Linked DNA regions of Homo sapiens: all the other regions are linked to region 2. Evidence: fine-mapped expression QTL. A gene starts in region 2. Each other region holds a variant in brackets. All regions are shown on one strand. Distances are between the middles of the regions.

What was found. PIP is the estimated chance that this variant, and not a neighbour inherited with it, causes the effect.
Region 1: its variant is the best candidate, but not a certain one, in a credible set for the expression of COL4A3 in pituitary (GTEx, PIP 0.78).
Region 3: its variant is the best candidate, but not a certain one, in a credible set for the expression of COL4A3 in pancreas (GTEx, PIP 0.69).

Annotation. Positions count from the first base shown.
Region 1 is chr2:227,205,022-227,210,829 of GRCh38, reverse strand. All of the region lies in intron 1 of COL4A3 (collagen type IV alpha 3 chain), which reads right to left. Among named protein-coding and RNA genes, the nearest start is that of COL4A3, 43 kb to the right of the region's middle. The variant G/A (reference allele first, on the strand shown) is at 3,454.
Region 2 is chr2:227,161,533-227,167,340 of GRCh38, reverse strand. COL4A3 (collagen type IV alpha 3 chain) reads right to left here and starts at 2,717. Exons shown (of 52, transcript NM_000091.5): 1 at 2,528-2,717. The coding sequence starts at 2,614. It overlaps COL4A4 (collagen type IV alpha 4 chain), which reads left to right and starts at 3,136. Exons shown (of 48, transcript NM_000092.5): 1 at 3,136-3,334. RefSeq lists silencers at 2,484-2,663, 2,884-3,263 and enhancers at 3,534-3,633, 2,908-3,809.
Region 3 is chr2:227,198,995-227,204,802 of GRCh38, reverse strand. The region is part of intron 1 of COL4A3 (collagen type IV alpha 3 chain); the gene reads right to left. Among named protein-coding and RNA genes, the nearest start is that of COL4A3, 37 kb to the right of the region's middle. The variant A/T (reference allele first, on the strand shown) is at 2,433.

The sequences.
Region 1 (5,808 bases), 43 kb before region 2:
AATAAGTATTTATGGGGAGACACGGCAAAGAAAAATAAGAAAATAGGTAACATAAAAGTCTGAATTGCATTTGGTGGTGGGGTGGCTGTGAGAAGGGAATGCAGTTGTGGTAGATTACACTGGAGTTATACTGCTTATGTTCTTTATCTTAACGCATATGTGTGCACCTGCGTGCATGCTTGCATGCGTGCTGTGTACATGTGTACTTGGGTGTTTATTTTGCATTCTTTTTTTCTTTTTGAGATGGAGTCTCACTCTGTCACCCAGGCTGGTGTGCAGTGGTTCGGTCTCGGCTCTCTGCAACCTCCGCCTCCCAGGTTCAAACAATTCTCCTGTCTCAGCCTCCTGAGTAGCTGGGACTACAGGTGCGTGCCACCACACTTGGCTAATTTTTTATTTTTAGTAGAGATGGGGTTTCACCATGTTGGCCAGGCTGGTCTTGAACTTCTGACCTCAGGTGATCTGCCTGCGTTGGCATCCCAAAGTGCTGGGATTACAGGTATGAGCCACCATGCCCAGCCTATTTTGTATTCTTTACACTGTGCATATATAATATGTACATCATTTCATGGATGATTGTACTTTATAATGTAGGATAGCTTTGCAATGCTTGTTAAAGGCACCTACAAAGATGCTTTGGAGCCTCTGTCCTGTTTCTGCAACAATATTTAACATCAGTTAAGGTTTGGTTCAACAATGTCCCAAAGGTAAACTCATAAATAACACAGATAGCTTTTACTACATGCCTGGCACTGTATTAAGAACTTTACTTACAGGAACTCATTAGATCTTTACAATCTTATAAGTGTGTTGTATTATTATTCCCAATTTACAGACAAGAAAGCTAAGCAACTTGCCTAACATCCCAATTACCCAGTTCATTCCATCAGGCATTTGAGAGTTGGTCAGAACATATCCATATAAAAAGAAACTGAACAGGACAGAGTAAAGGTCCCATCTTTTTTGTTTGTTTGTTTGTTTGTTTTTGAGATGGAGTTTTGCTCTTATTGCCCAGGCTGGAGCGCAATGGCACGATCTCAGCTCACTGCAACCTCCGCCTCCCAGGTTCAAGTGATTCTCCTGCATCAACCTCCAGAGTAGCTGGAATTACAGGCACCTACCACCACACCCAGCTAATTTTTTTGTATTTTTAGTAGAGATGGGGTTTCACCATATTGGCCAGGCTGGTCTCGAACTCCTGATTTCAGGTGATCTACCCACCTCAGCCTCCCAAAGTGCTGGGATTACAGGTGTGAGTCACTGTGCCCAGCCTAGGTCCCATCTTTTAATGTTCTAACACAGAGGAGGTGGAGTTCCCAGAAGATTCGGACACAGAGGCTTCACAGAAGAGATGGGGCTAGTACTGCGTTAACAGAGATAGCAGGATTCAAAACAAGGAATCCGTTGGGGAAGATATACCAGGCAGGGAGGATGACAAGCAAAGTCCAGAAGTAAAAGGTTCAGGCCTGCTGAGGACCTAAGGCCACTGGGCCAGTCTGGCTGGAGTGAAGGGAGCAAGAAGGGATGTTCTAGATGGTCCACTGGAAAAGCAGATGCATCTGAATTGGACCATCTAGAACCAGCTGGACGCAACATAGGCCACATACTCTTAGGGAATCCCCAAGATTATCCTGGGATGACCTTTCAAGTACCCCTGTTTGGAACAGGAATTAACATTGTGCTGGTGATGTATGACCATGGTTGGCAGAGCCACTTTTTCTCAAGTCATGTTTTGTGTCGTTCAGAAACATCTGGCTTAGGCAAAAAATGAGGTTCCAAAAGTTTGTTTGTAATGCTTCCCTTTCCTTCTGCTTTCCCTTGGGAATTCCTCAACTTGTATTCTCTTCCTGTTCTTTCTTCCTTCTTTCTCTTGCCATTTAAGATAAAAATTCCATGAAAACTTTAGGAAAATTTTAACATATTTGAAATATTTGCACACAGCATAATTTTGTTTCTCTCCCTCCTCTTTCTTTGTTTTTTGCTCCTCTTTCTAGAACTTTGTACTTACCTCCTTCTGTATATATGTGTGTGTGTGTGTGTGTGTGTGTGTGTGTGTGTGTGTGTAACCAACCGCCTAATGGGTTCACCTTTCTTGCTGCCTAGACAGAACTGATTTATCAAGACAGGGGAACTGCAATGGAGAAAGAGTAATTCACGCAGAGCCGGCTGTGCAGGAGACGGAATATTCATCATTACTCAACTCAGTCTCCCCGAACATTTGGGGATCAGAGTTTTTAAAGATAGTTTGGCGGGTAGGGGCTTGGGAAGTGGGGAGAGCTGACTGGTCAGGTTGGAGATGGAATCTTCATGGGTCGGAGTTAGGTTTTCTTAATGTCTTCTGTTCCTGAGTGCATTGGTACAACTGGGTTGGACCAGATTACAGGTCTGGGTGGGGTTAGCTGATCCATTGAGTGCAGGGTCTACAAAATGTCTCAAGCACTGATCTTAGGTTTTACAATAATGATGTTACCCCCAGGAGCAATTTGGGGAGGTTCGGACTCTTGAAGCCAGAAGCCGCATGACCCTGAAACTGTAATTTCTCATCTTGTAGCTAATTTGTTAGTCCTGCAAAGGCAAACTGGTCCCCAGGCAAGAAGGGGGTCTTTTTGGGAAAGGGCTGTTATCAATTTTGTTTCAGAGTCAAACCATGAACTGAATTCCTTCCCAAAGTCAGTTCGGCCTATGCCCAGGAATGAACAAGGACAGCTTAAGGGTTAGAAGCAAAATAGAGTTGGTTAAGTTAGATTTATTTCACTGTCATAATTTCCTCAGTTATAATTTTGCAAAGGTGGTTTCGTGTGTGTGGGGGGGCGGGGGGAGAGAGTAACCAATACTCCAATTTTTCTAAGAGGAGAATGCATTACTATTTTTTAATTATTTTTCTTCTCTTTTCTCCATTTCTCCCTATTCCCCACTTCCTACTTAGCCCCTTCAATTATAACCTTTTACCTCCCCTTCACCAGACACTCCCTACAGGGCAAGTTTATCCAACTATGGGCTTAGAAGCTCCAGAGCAGAACTCTCCCCCACCAGGGGACTGCTTTGAGAGATAACACTCAATTTACAATCCAAAGTATGCCTGCTGTGAAACTCTGTCTCACCTGGAGAGCTTTTGGCCACATTTACAACCTATTTCTGCCCATGAAGACACCAGCTCCAATGCCCGGTAGATAAGGCACCAAAGTGCGTATGTGAACCCCTAACTAGTCACTTCTGCCCCTGCAAACCCCCCTGCCCTTTAAAGCACCTGCTTTCTGCTCCAAAAGTGAAGCAGTATCCTTAAGGTGGGAAGCCTGTACTGTACTCCTTCCCGTAAGCTAGGTTTAGAATAAAAAGTCACTTTAATTATACCAAACCACACTCTTGTTAACTGGACTCTGCAAGCAGTGGGCCACTGAACCTGTGTTTCGGCTACGAGAGAGAGGAGGGAGAATGTAGGGAAATAAACAAGAA[G/A]TGAAGAAGAAATAAATATTTGGAAGATATATTTATTTTTATGTTATACTAAAATGCATTTTTTTAGTGTGTGTTTTATTTTTAATTTGGTGACTAGGTATTCCATTTCTGTGGGGTTACTAACTTTCTTGGTTGTTTTCCTAGAACTCTTTTTCTAAGGCACAGATAAGTTCTCTTAGTTTAGAAACCTGGAATGAAAGGCAAGAGATGACGAGTGGAAAGGGATAGGGTTGCCTTTTCTGGGCTCTGGCTTGGAGGGTAGGACAGGGCCCCCTCATTCACAGACCTGCTCTTCCTAGCCCAGGACTCAGGATTTCCTCTGGAGTACATATCAGAGCCCTCCTCTTCCATTCCAGGGTGTCTCCTGGGCTTCCTCTTAACCACAAAAGTGGTGACACAGTGCAAGTATGCAGTGCAAGTGCTTTGTAGCAGTTAGGGGTCTGGGTTTGAATCTCTGTTCCATTACTTTCTAGATGAGCAAACAAACCTGAGTTTCAATTTCTTCATCTAGAAAATGGGGTGATGATAAAGAATACTTCCTTATGGGTTGGTATGAGGCTTAGCTAAGACATGTAAACCTGCATACGAGTGTGTGTCAGTGATTTTCGTCGTTATTGCTACCCTGTGATCAAGCCCAAGCTTCTCCAACCTCCACGTGCATACAAATCACCTGTGAGTCTTTTTAAGACACAGATTCGGACTCATTAGGTCTGGGGCAGGGCTTGAGAGTCTGCATTTCTGACAAGTTCTCAGGTGTTACATACCTCTTGGTATGAGGTCACGGGCCGCATTTGGAAGGATCCAGCCATTTCCTCCTACTCTTCAGTGTTCCCACACTAACTCACTTTTTGCTGCTCAGCTGGCTCTCTTCCTGCTGTCCTTCCTTCCCTCTCCTCAGTTCCCACCTGAGCCTATCAAAATCTCATTCGATCTTCAGAACCAAAGTCTAAGATGATTTTTCAATTTTTCCGAGAACCTCCTTGCACATTAGAATCACCTGAGGGGGCGGGGCACAGTGGCTCAGGCCTGTAATCCCAGCACTACGGGAGACCAAGGCAGGTGGATCACTTGAGGTCAGGAGTTGAGACCAGCCTGGCCAACATGGTGAAACCCTGTCTCTACTAAGAATACAAAAATTAGCCGGGTGTGGTGGCGGGTGCCTGTAATCCCAGCTACTTGGCAGGCTGAGGGAGGAGAGTTGCTTGAACCTGCTTGGTGGAGGCTGCAGTGAGCTGAGATCGCACCACTGCACTTCAGCCTGGGCAACAGAGTGAGACTCCATCTCGAAAAAAAAAATCACCTGGGGGAACTCTTAAAAACCCTAATGCCCAGGCTACACCCCAGACGTGTTGAATCAAAACCCCAGTCATCAGTATTTTTGCAAGTTTCCCAGATGATTTTCCTTGTAGAGTCCAGGGTGAGAACCATTGCCCTAAAGCCTCAGCTAAGCTGCTCTTGATCTCCCCAGATACAATGCATCAACTTGCCAAGACACTGCTCTTACGACATTTGGCATCATGCTGCTTTATTTAGTGGCATGGGCCCTTGTCTTTTTATACCTAAGAAACCAGAAGTTCCTTGAAAGTGGAGACTGTCTTAATAATATTTAAAGCTCAGGAAATGTTTAAGAGAGTATTTTGAACTTAGTCGATTTCAAAAAAAAAAATATTTGTTGAATTAAGTTGTATAGTCATATGGGTTTTAAGCATTGTGGGAAGGAATGTAATACTATTATTGATAAATATTTTTGAAGTTATTTACTTGTTTCCATGTTATTTTAATTTAATCAATAATAATTTTAGCTATAAATATTATCAAGAAAATGCTTACATGTCTGGGATCATGTACAATTATAAAAATAATTTCTAATATAAAATATTCATTCTATAACTATGAGATACTATAGAAGCATTGTATGTCTCAATGCATTGAAAGCAAATTCTCCTATGTTATAAACATATCACAATGTTTGTACCTTGCAGAGATTGGCAATCTGGAACAATATATTATTATTGATCTTTATCAAAAGTTAATTTATTTTATTTGATAGAATATCGTATATACACTATTTCATATACAACCTAATATTTTGAAATATGTGTACATAATAGGGTAGCCAAAATGAGCTGAATAACATATGCATAACCTCACATAACCTCATAACATTTTTTGTAGTCTCTATTTTTAATATACAGATAAGATTATTTTAAACTATGAAATAAAAGAATATATCAGCTCTTGGGATTTCAAGATTGCATATAGAAGTATGCTAATTTTTTTGTAAAGTAACCACATTTACATTTCTCTCTAAATAAACTTCTGCTCCTTATTTGCAATATAATCAAATGTTGCCAT
Region 2 (5,808 bases):
GGCACATCAGTCCAAATTGTGTGGGTGGACAGTTCCACCCCGTCTAAACAAACTTAGCATGTAGAGTCAACACCGCTGCTATTTCCCTGTTTTGAGAAATGCTAAAGTAAAACTGAATAAATTGGAGCGAAACACATCCTTAACTGGAGTAGAACAAAAATAATAAAATATAATGGCTCCAAAGTTACATTTAGCTCTCACTTATACATTGTTTGGCCCACACTATGTTTTTGTAAAGTTTTGGCTTAGTTGCTAATATTTAGAATTTGAGAAGTTTCTAATAAAAACTGGATTCCCAACTTCTCTCTTGAAGTGATGCTGGCACAATTGGGCTTGAATTCTAGCATGCTAACAACTAGGTTCTGAAGAGTCTCTCTTACCCCATTGCCTTACTCCTTACTTCACCTGCTGGCCCCACTGGGGTTTCAACTCTCATTTTACACATGAGAAAACTGAGGCTCAGAGTGGTCAACAGCCTTGCCCAACAGCAGAGTTTCTCTGTGAAGGGAGCCATGTTGGTGCACATTGCCCGATTATCAGTGAACGTTGTGATTCCTTTTTCTACAAGATGAAGGCACATTTCATTATTTTACTGGCATATTTTCTCTCTAACCCAGCAGGTACACTGGAAATGATAATCCTGAAAACTTGTTAATGAAAGACTTACTTCAAGTGATGAGAAAAACAATACAAATGGATTAATTTCAGCAAGAAGTCACCAAGATTTGGCCAAACTCAAAACAGAAAAGTTTACATGTAAAAATAACAAAGGAATGTAACAACAGAATTGAAAATGGTATAACTAGAGTTTGCATGGTCCCCAAGCATTACTTTTTCAGGCTGATCCTCACATAAGTACAATTCTTCCACCCCTTCCCAATCTCATTCCTGTTCTTCTAAATTCAGAAACATGTGCAAACCCTGCTCTGGATCTCTTCTCCAGGCTTCCCCACAACACACATTTCCTTTAGGATTTTGCTTTTTTGGATTTATTTGTCCTGGTTAAAGCTGGTAGATAATCCCCACTGAGTTTTATCTATCATGCCTAGTAGCATTTAAATACCTGGTCTGGGAATTCCTAATGTATGCAAAGTGCATTTTTGTTAGAACCAGCTACACAAACAGATTACATAGATTACAAATGTCCTTTAGAATGTGAAACAGTGAATAATCTAAATGTAAACTGATAGGGAAATGGTTCAATTAACTTTGGCATATTGTGAAATACTGTGCAACAAAGCAAAAAGAAAAACAGGAGGATCTTAAATACTGACATGGACTGGTCTACAGGTTGCAAAGGAATACAGCACAGTATCATTTATGTTAAAAGGCCAACAAAAACATACATATATGTTTGTGGGTTCATATGTGTGTGTGTAAATTCATGGACAATGTTTGGAAAACTACATGAAATATGAAAGTGGTGAAAGTGGACACCTCTTGGAAGACAAGGAAATGGGGAGAGGTATGGGGGGTGTCAGAGAGGGCTTTAGTTTCACCTATAATGTCTGCAATGTCTTCATTTAATTTAAATAGGAAAAACATATAGAACCTATATGTGACCATAGGTTCTAAAATTCTTTTCATGTAACATATATAAATATTTATGTGACCGTTAATTTCCAATCATAATCTCAATGATAACATTTGTAAAAACATCTGCTCATCCTTGGAAATGAAATTTCCTATGCCACGTTATCACCCAAATCAACTTTTTAAAGTGTAAAAATAACAAGTATCTGAAAAGTTAAAGTTTACTTTCACAAGGTAAAATCAAGTGAGTCAACTCTAGGAGGCACAATCGTTTTGAGGACAATCAATTTCTATTTAATGGCAAAGAATAAGAAATATGGGATGGATTTAAATAAATCCAGTTTCACTCAAATTCCAAGTCAAAAATCAAATCAAAGTGTCAGATTGCTTAAATGATTCTAACCTGAGTTCGATTTCTAAGGTGCTCTTAATTTTTCAGTGATAGCATTTGCTTTTCCCAACAATAGCAAAGGAAAACTGGAGGGCAAGTTTTGCAAGGAAGAAACTGAGCCCCAGAGAGGTCAGGGTTTAGTGTGACGTCCCAGCTAGGAAGTGGCGGCTGGGACTCCCTGCAGGTGTCTCCTGCCAGCCCTCTGTGCGCTGGGCCAAGCTGCTTGATTTGATTCACCAGCGTGACACCGTGCATCTCCACATCCGGTGTTCTCACGTATCATCCCTGGCGATTATCTATGTGTCTATTTTTTAATTTACTGACCTCTGGAGGCCTGTCCCCGCCATCCCTGACTCCTAGGCACTGGACAAGCCCCCTCCTCGCCTCTTCCCCCAGCCCCGCGCATTCCACCTGTTCCGGGGCATCCCCGCTTGCTCCCTTCCGCTCGCTGCCTGTCCCGGGACCTGCGTGAAGCCCTCAGCCTCGCCACTAGCCCGGCAGCCGCTCCACTACCGCGCCGCTGCGGGTGGGGCCAGCGCGTCCCCCGGACGCGTGGAGGAGGGATGGAAGTGCGGGGGTGGGGGTCGCGCAGCCCCCACTCACCTTGCTGGCTGCGGGCGCCGCCGCCAGGAGCACCAGCAGGAGCGGCAGCAGGAGCACCTGCGGCCTGGGGGCGGTCCGGGCGCTCATGGTGGGCGCGCGCTCAGAGCCTGGGCGAGTCCGGGGACCCTCAGGCTCTCAGGCCACCGCGTCTCCTGCGCAGCGCGGCTCTGGGAGCCCGGCTGGAAAGCTCGCCTCGCCACTCGGCCGGGGCGGGTTTTGTAGGGCTCGGTCGCGCGGTTCGTCCCTCCCCACCCAGGCTTTTTGGTTGTGGCTTCAAGGGAGGGAAGACGTGGCTCAGGTCCCGCCCTCATACCCCCTCCCTCCCAACTTACCAGGCAGTGTCCCTTCTACCCGGGCATCGTGCCCAGGAGGCGAGAAAGGGCTGGGCGCCTGAGGGGCAGGTGGGCGCGGATCCAGGGTAAGGGGTTAAGGAGGTGATGCTCCCAAGGTCCGGGGGCCCAGGCGGGGAAGTGGGGTGCGGTCGGAGGTGGGGCGTTTGGGGGTGTGCGGTGGGGAGGTGGCTGCGCGGTGGGGAGGTGGCTGCGCAGGGTGGAGGGAGTGGCCAGCGGCCCTGCCCAGATTAAGCGGGAGGCGCGCCGGGCGTCTGCACTCGGGAGGCCCCGCTTGTTCCCCGCGCCCGCGGCGGTCCGCGTTCCCCGCCTCCAGCCCGCCTCCAACTTGCGGCCGCCGGGCTTGGCTGCGAGAGCGCCGCGAAGAGGCAGCGGGGCGCGGGTGGATTGGGGCTGGAGGTGCGCGTCCCGTGGGGTGGCAAGGCGGCAGCTCCTGGCGCTGCGGGCGTCCCCACAGGTAAGGCGCCCATAGGTGGGGCAACCGCTGTCCCGGGGCCCCGGCACCTGCCTGGGAGGGGCAGTGGAGGGAGCGTGGCATTCAAGGGGTGGTGGCGGGCCCAGCTGGGGAGTTGTGGCCCGGGGGTCACCAGAGGAGAGCGCGTCTGGCTCCTGGGCTTGTCTGCCTGGGCTTTAACTGGGTGCTGTGTGTTTTGATTAATTTGGAGGCTCGAGTTACCGGCCTGGCAGTCGGGGCACTCCAAAATGCCAAGAGAAAGAGGCAGCTGAGGAGAAAGAGAAAGCCCATCTTATTCTCCGCTGAGTTGAACTGCTTTTCAGGCCAAATCTTATCTGCGGAAATGCAGGGCAAAACAAGACTCAGCTCTGGTCAGGGTGCGCTCTTCCTGGGGGTGGCCTGCGATGCAAATGTGCCAGGGCACGGTCCTCCAGCCGGCTCTCGCCGTTTCCTGTGCTACGGACCACACTGGCTCTGGTAAAGCAATTAGACTGTTTCTCAGAAGAATGTTGTGAAATGCATAAAATACAATTAAATCAGAATCAGTTTTATTGGAATGCAATTATGGAAGTCCTCAAGTCGTGATATAGTAACTAACACAGGTGCATCATCATTATTGCATTAAATAGCTTGATTTAACAGCAGGCCGATTAAGCAACAGTAATGTCAAAGTAGTGATGTCTGCAAATGGTATTTTGAGATAATAGCCCAAACTGAAATGTGACATGAAAATACCGGTGGGTGCAAATTATCAAGAACTGCCAATACTACTGTGCTCTGTTGCCTGTGCTCATAAGGGAAGGACATGTTGAACTTCTGTGACATGTTACTAAAAGTAAAGATGCAACTTATTTTCCTATGTGAGTTTCCTATACAGATCACCTGAATTCCATCCTCAGGTTAAGAATCTTTGCTTTGGAACAGTGTTGCTGATATTTGCTGCAATTGGCTTCAGACACCAAGTATGATCATGCAGTTGGTCACTGATTTTAGGGAACCACTTGCTTGCAGTTAAATTTGGGATCTATTGGTATCTTAGAACTTTGTAGCCATGCAGGTAGGCAAAACCCTAACAGTGAATGAAGACACTCCTCCCATTCTTTTTATTTTGACTATAGCATGAATCTTACAGTCTTCTTTCTGTCTTTTATGCCAGTGATTCTCAACTATCGTTGTGCATTAGAATCTTTGGGAGGATAAAACAATGTTGCTACCCAGACCATTCCAAGCCAATTTTATCAGACTCTCTAGCTGTTTTAAAATTTCCTGTACATTCCCATGCACAATCAAGTATGAGAGCTCCTGTTTTCACGAACATGTGAAAATTTCACGCACATGTTGAATTAGGATATATTCTTAGTAGAATAATAAAAAGCACATATATTAAACTCTTCATTACAACTTGGGAACACTGCGGAATTTATGACCATATCGCAGATGTTGCTGTGTGGTATGCAGTAGCTTCTTTCCATTGGTAGGGAAGGTTCTTCTGGAAACTTCTGCCACTCTTGTGGAATGAAACGGTAGGTGTTCTGTTGATGAGGTGACAGTGTCCAAGAGTTCTGAGAGTCACATGATTATGTTTCACAAACTGACAGTATTTAATTTTAAAAAGTACAAACAAAAAAATCTCAATGCTAATGTTAAATGCTTCTCTTTGCCAAATTCCAGAAGATTCCTCAATTTGAATTTTAATTGCCTTTTCCTGAAACCAAGTCATTTTGTTGGAGGACTAGACTTGGTTTTATCAATTTTGGAACAGGAAGTAATAGTCAACTGCAAGTCATTTCTGTTGCAGATACAGAGCTGGAAAGAAACTTGTGATGTAAATACAGCAAGAAAGAGGCAATGCTGGAGAGCTTGACCTCTGGAGTAGACTCTGGAGTTTTGAATCCTTTCCATACTTACTAGTGTGACCTAACCTCTCTGGGCTGGAGTCTTCCTTCTATAAAATAGACATACTCACCATACCCACCTCAGGGAGTTGTTGGAATCTAATGAGATAGCAAAAACCCTTTGTGCAGAATCTTCACACAGTAGTCACATAGTGAAATTTGATTCTTTTTTTTTTTTTGTACAAAGGAAAATAGGTGGCCCTGATGAGAAATGGTGGCACGTGGTAGAGATGCTCTTCTGAGCTCAGTACTAAAATGGCTGGAGGCAAGCATAGCCTATGAACTCCCTTGAGGTTAATACACTTCCAAGGCCTCTAGAACCTTGCCTTGGCATCCCTTGGGACCAGCAGCATTGGCCTCCCTGGGAGCTTGCTGGAAATGTAGAGTCTCTGGTCTCACTCTGGATCCACTGAATCAGATCCCACATTCACCAAGATCTCCAGGTGATTCGTATGCACCTGGTACTTAAAACTCTGAGAAGTTGCTTATCTAAAAGCCACATTTAACCACCTATTCCCCACCTGCCACATTTAGAACAATGTTTGACAGGCTCACCTGTCAAACAAACAGGTGGTGTTAATT
Region 3 (5,808 bases), 37 kb before region 2:
TGAGGATCCAGATACACAGTAAAGGAATATTTTAGGTTTCCCTGACTAAATATGGAAGCTACGCATGAACGGCTTAAGAGCTAAAGTGTGGCTGAGGCAAATCTGGGGATAGAATTTGAAAATCCCTGGCTACTTGGTACTTGTGTCCAGCTAGGCAATTGTTGGCTAATAGGATTAAGCTAAGACAGAGGCATTCAGAAGGAAAATGCCAACAAGGAATTCTGTTAGCCTGTCTTTAGAATCCCAGACAATCTGTCCTGCTTCAGCCATCATTTGCACGGGTCCCTTCGTATATGGTGGAGTCTAACCCTGAGCATCATCAGAAAGTTTAAGCAATGTTTGTGAGAGTCACTGGCAGAACTATAGTAAAGGATAAGTGTGAAGCCTAAAAAGAGAAGAAAAAATAGTGAGAACATAAGATAGAGAAAGAGAAAAAAATAGAAGGAAATGAAGAAAAGAGCAATAGAAGCAGTACCAGGTGGCAGCTAAAAGTAGCAGCTTAGATTTATTGAATGCTCATGTGACAGACATTGTTCTAAGTACATTATTTCTAATAACTTATTTAATCCTTATTGCATATTACAAATGAGAAAATTGAGGCACAGAAAGACTAGGTAATTTTCTTAAAGTCACCCGGCTAGTAAATGGTGGATCTTGGATTCTTGGAGTTGAATCCAGGTAATTTAGGTCTACTACGAATTATTAAGATGCCACTTAATATTAGTGCTGTTCATTTAATGTCAGCACCATACTATAAAGGTTCTTACCATTTTTTCCACTTCTGCATCCTCAGGTTCTATCTAGGCTGAATGTTAGTCAATGAATATTTATTAAGCCCTGGTACTGGTCTGGGAGCTGGGAATCCAGCAATTGACATTAGACAAAATTCTCATGCTTAAGAGGCTTATATTTTAGGGGAATGGGCTTGATATGTGGCAAATATTTTTGGAATATTATTGCTGAAAATAAAACTAGGAGATAATAAATGACTTTGCTACTGTAGTGTATATATATACACACATATATGTATATATACACATATATACACACATATATGTATATATACACATATATACACACATATATGTATATATACACATATATACACACATATATGTATATATACACATATATACACACATATATGTATATATACACATATATACACACATATATGTATATATACACATATATACACACATATATGTATATATACACATATATACACACATATATGTATATATACACATATATACACACATATATGTATATATACACATATATACACACATATATGTATATATACACATATACACACATATGTATACACATATATACACACATATATGTATGTATACACATATACACACATATATGTATGTATACACATATATGTATGTATACACATATATACACATATATGTATGTATACACATATATGTATATATACACATATATACACATATATGTATGTATACACATATATGTATATATACACATATATACACATATATGTATATATACACATATATACACATATATGTATATATACATATATGTATATATACACATATATACACATATATGTGTGTATATACACATATATGTATATATACACACATATACACATATATACACATATATGTATATATACACATATATACACATATATGTATATATACACATATATACACATATATGTATATATACACATATATACACATATATACACATATATGTATATATACACATATATACACATATATGTATATATACACATATATACACATATATGTATATATACACATATATACACATATGTATATATACACATATATACACATATATGTATATATACACATATATACACATATATACACATATATGTATATATACACATATATACACATATATACACATATGTATATATACACATATATGTATATATACACATATGTATATATACACATAGATACACATATATGTATATATACACATATTATATATATACACATGTGTATATATATGTGATATATATATATATATATATATATATTTTTTTTTTTTAGAGACGGATTCTCGCACTTTCTCCCAGGCCGGACTGCAGTGGCGCTATCTCGGCTCACTGCAAGCTCTGCCTCCCGGGTTCACACCATTCTCCTGCCTCAGCCTCCCGAGTAGCTGGGACTACAGGTGCCCGCCACCGCGCCCGGCTAATTTTTTGTAGAGACGGGGTTTCACCGTGTTAGCCAAGATGGTCTCGATCTCCTGACCTAGTGATCCGCCCGCCTCGGCCTCCCAAAGTGCTGGGATTACAGGAGAGAGCCACCGCGCCCGGCTAGTATTAATATATTTTAAAAAAATACCCGCATACCAGCATTATCAGTTCACTCCAGTTAGTAAACTTTGGATACTAAAATAAGACAGGCATG[A/T]TTATTTAGGGCTTCAAGAAACACCTATAGTTGGAAATGGTAACATTTGTTAGGAAGAACAATGAAACATGAAAAAAGGCATGGGGACAGCCACAAGGAAAATACAGACAAGTGTAAATTACATAGCTCTCCGAATACAGGTGAATTGCATACCACAGGCAAGCTAGAACTGGTGTGCTCTAATATTGACACCCTACAATGTTACAACACATTCAAAACATCAAGTTCTAATGAACCCGTACTTAATAGTATAAAATAGCAAGAATATATTCTGGAAGGGAATTCTGCACCTGGATTTTTGTGTTGCTAACCAATCGTGAAATCAAACTGCTAAACAGGGCTTAGTGTACTGGAAAATCATTTGAAGTCCTTTTACCAGCATTCAGGTTAATGGTTAAAGGTTGGTATTTAAAGTGTGCTATAGTTTCCATTTAATACTTTAGTTAATAATACATCATTCCATGGTGTTTGAAAAATACATCAAAACAAGTAATGGCAAACTAGACCAGTGCTTCATTTGGGATCAGGAGGTGCTTAGAAAAAAATTAATCTGGCTATCCATTTCCAATAGACAAGAGTAATTAATTTCAATAGGAGAAACACATACAGTTGCAATGCTTGAGTCCCATAGATGGTTTTAAATCTCTCGTTCCATTCAGAATCCTTTCTGTTTTACAGTTGAAAAGGATTTGGTAGTTTCTGATTGGTGTCTATAGTGACATCAGGTATTTCTCAGTTTTTAGAATGAACTACTTGTTTCTCTAAACACACGACCCCACACCTTGGATTTCACAGTCTATTGAAATAAGGTCAACTGGAAACGGATACATTGCTACTATTCTTCTAACGTCAACTGGAAACGGATACAGTGCTACTATTCTTCTTTCTGCGTCTTCAGACCTTAACAAAAACCTTTGACTGAGACGACAGTGGCAAATACAATGTAAGCCTGGGATGTGACAAATTTGCCTTTTCTACCCAACATGTGTTGGGCTTTTGCATTTTGCTTTTTGATTCCACCTAACTATGTCAACTCCTATTAAACTACTGTTAACATTTTAACAACAGAGGAATTTTTTTTTCCTCCTTAGTGGAAAAGTTTCAAAACTATTCATGAACTTGTAAATAAGACCGTTTTTCTCACAGAAAATCTCCTCTTGCTTTTTACACAGATGCTAAGTAAATACTGTCCAGCTTTTACTATCTTGATTCTTTCTTCTTGAGCTGATTAGCTGTAAAAAGAGAGTCATTAAGGTAACATAACCTAATAAGAATAAATGTATTTGTTAACACAAAACTTTTTAAAGATACTTAAGGCATGTCATTATTACATTAAAATTAAATGTGAATAATATAATTTCTAATCTAAACTTAATTTAAGAAGAACACTTCTTCCCATGTTCTTGAATGTTTAAACATTTTCATAATAACATTTTGGAATAAATGCAAAGCAAAACCAAACAAAACATAAGCAGAGAGTTGAGGAGATCTGACATTTGTAATTGAACATTTCATTGTAATTGAACATGTAATTGTTCAATTGTAATTGTACATGCAATTGAACATGTAAATGAAGCCATAAACTTTAATGTAAATTAACATCATGTTACTTATGACAGAAACAAGTTTACAAGTACAAATCACAGAGAACTAAGATGCTTGCTTTTGGAGTCTGTGCATAAGTTTCTAGAATTTGCAATTGAGACCCAAAACATTTTAGCCCTGCTTGTACTGCTGAAGAGTCAGCTATGAATGGCTTTGTGAGTCTGAGCAGATTTTTGAGTCCTGCCTCCAATGCACACTAGAAACATGCACCAGCGCCTTCCTTGTTTTCTAAAATAGGGCAACTATTACATCTATATGCATTCTTTAGGCATCGACTATGTGCTATGGCTGTACTTGGGACAATGGAAAATTTGTGTGGGCTGGCCTTATGCAGAACAGAAGTGAGATGAGAGCCAATAATTGAACAATCAAGAGTTGAAACTCTGTGTAGAACCAGCATGACGTGGGATGATGGGGAAGAGTGTGGTGCTTTGGGTTGCTGGCACCCAGGAAAAACTTTGTGAATACAGTGGATGTTCAAGAATGTTCTAATGGAAAATCAGTGTAGATTAAAGGAAAAAAGTCCCTTCTTCGAATTGTATCTACACATACACACTATGTAAAGATACAAACTTCGTTCCTGTTCTTTTCCATCTACATCGAGATCACAAAAAGAAATATCATAAGATGGTGGGGTGACAGTCAGGCTCTGCTAGCATTCAGCTGTGCACCTGGGAAAAGCTTCAGTCTTTCTGGTCTTCAGTTTTCTTAGATTGGACAAAGCTATCTCTATGTTTTTTCCTACTTCTAGCTTTCTGTGATTAGGTCAAACCATACATGTCTACAGAATGTGGTACCTTCTAGACTGTGAGTAAACATGCAATATAATTTATGAGTTAACATATATAAAGATAAGCTCTTGCTGCAGCCTTCCTATTAACATTGGGAGGCACGATCCATCCTTCGGACTAGTTTTTTGTTTGTTTGTTTGTTTTTACATTTTTATATGCACAAGAACTATGCATGTTAAAAGCACAAACCCTTCTGAACTTGCCCTTCTCCCAACAACCTGTCTTCATTCTGATTCACTGAATTGGGGCTGGGGCCACAGATATGAATGTTTAGTCTGGGCTGGGCCCAAGAATCTCAATATTTAAGATCTTAGGTGATTCCGATGCCTGTGGGTTATGGACGACAATGCAGAAACACTAAAGTAAGGGATTAATCCTGACCTTGGGTCATTTCTCAAGCTGAAGACTTTCAGGGACTTTAGGAAAATTTCAAATCAATCTCTTTGGAATGCTTCAGATTAGAGACAAATCCCTTAGGTCTGTTTGATCCAGTCTTAGTTGCAGACTGAATGAGCCGAAGTGAACTACAACAGGGCATTGATTACCTGGTTATATTTAAATCTCTAAAATACTTATTTTCTAGGATGATAGTATGCCAGGGGCAAGAATTTTCAGAGGTAAAGATTGCCAAGTAGTATCAGAGATAGAAATGACCCAATCCTGGGGGAGGAATGGGGGTGAAATAGACAAGGAAATTCATGACTAACTCTGCTATAAAACTACTGAGGTTGCAATTACACAGGTAAATCCTCCGGAAGAAAGTGGAATTTTTCTTGTGATAAACATCTCACTCAAAGGCCCCTTGCCATGCTTACCAACCTTGACTTACTGGTAATATGTTCCTCTGAGCCTAACCTGAATTTTTTCATTCCTCAATTCAGTTTGCTCCTAATCTGTCCTTAGGAGTGAGAACAGCTGTTACTCTGCACTGGAAAATAAGTCCCACGTCCCTTGCCCTAATTCCTGTGACTCCGCAGGGC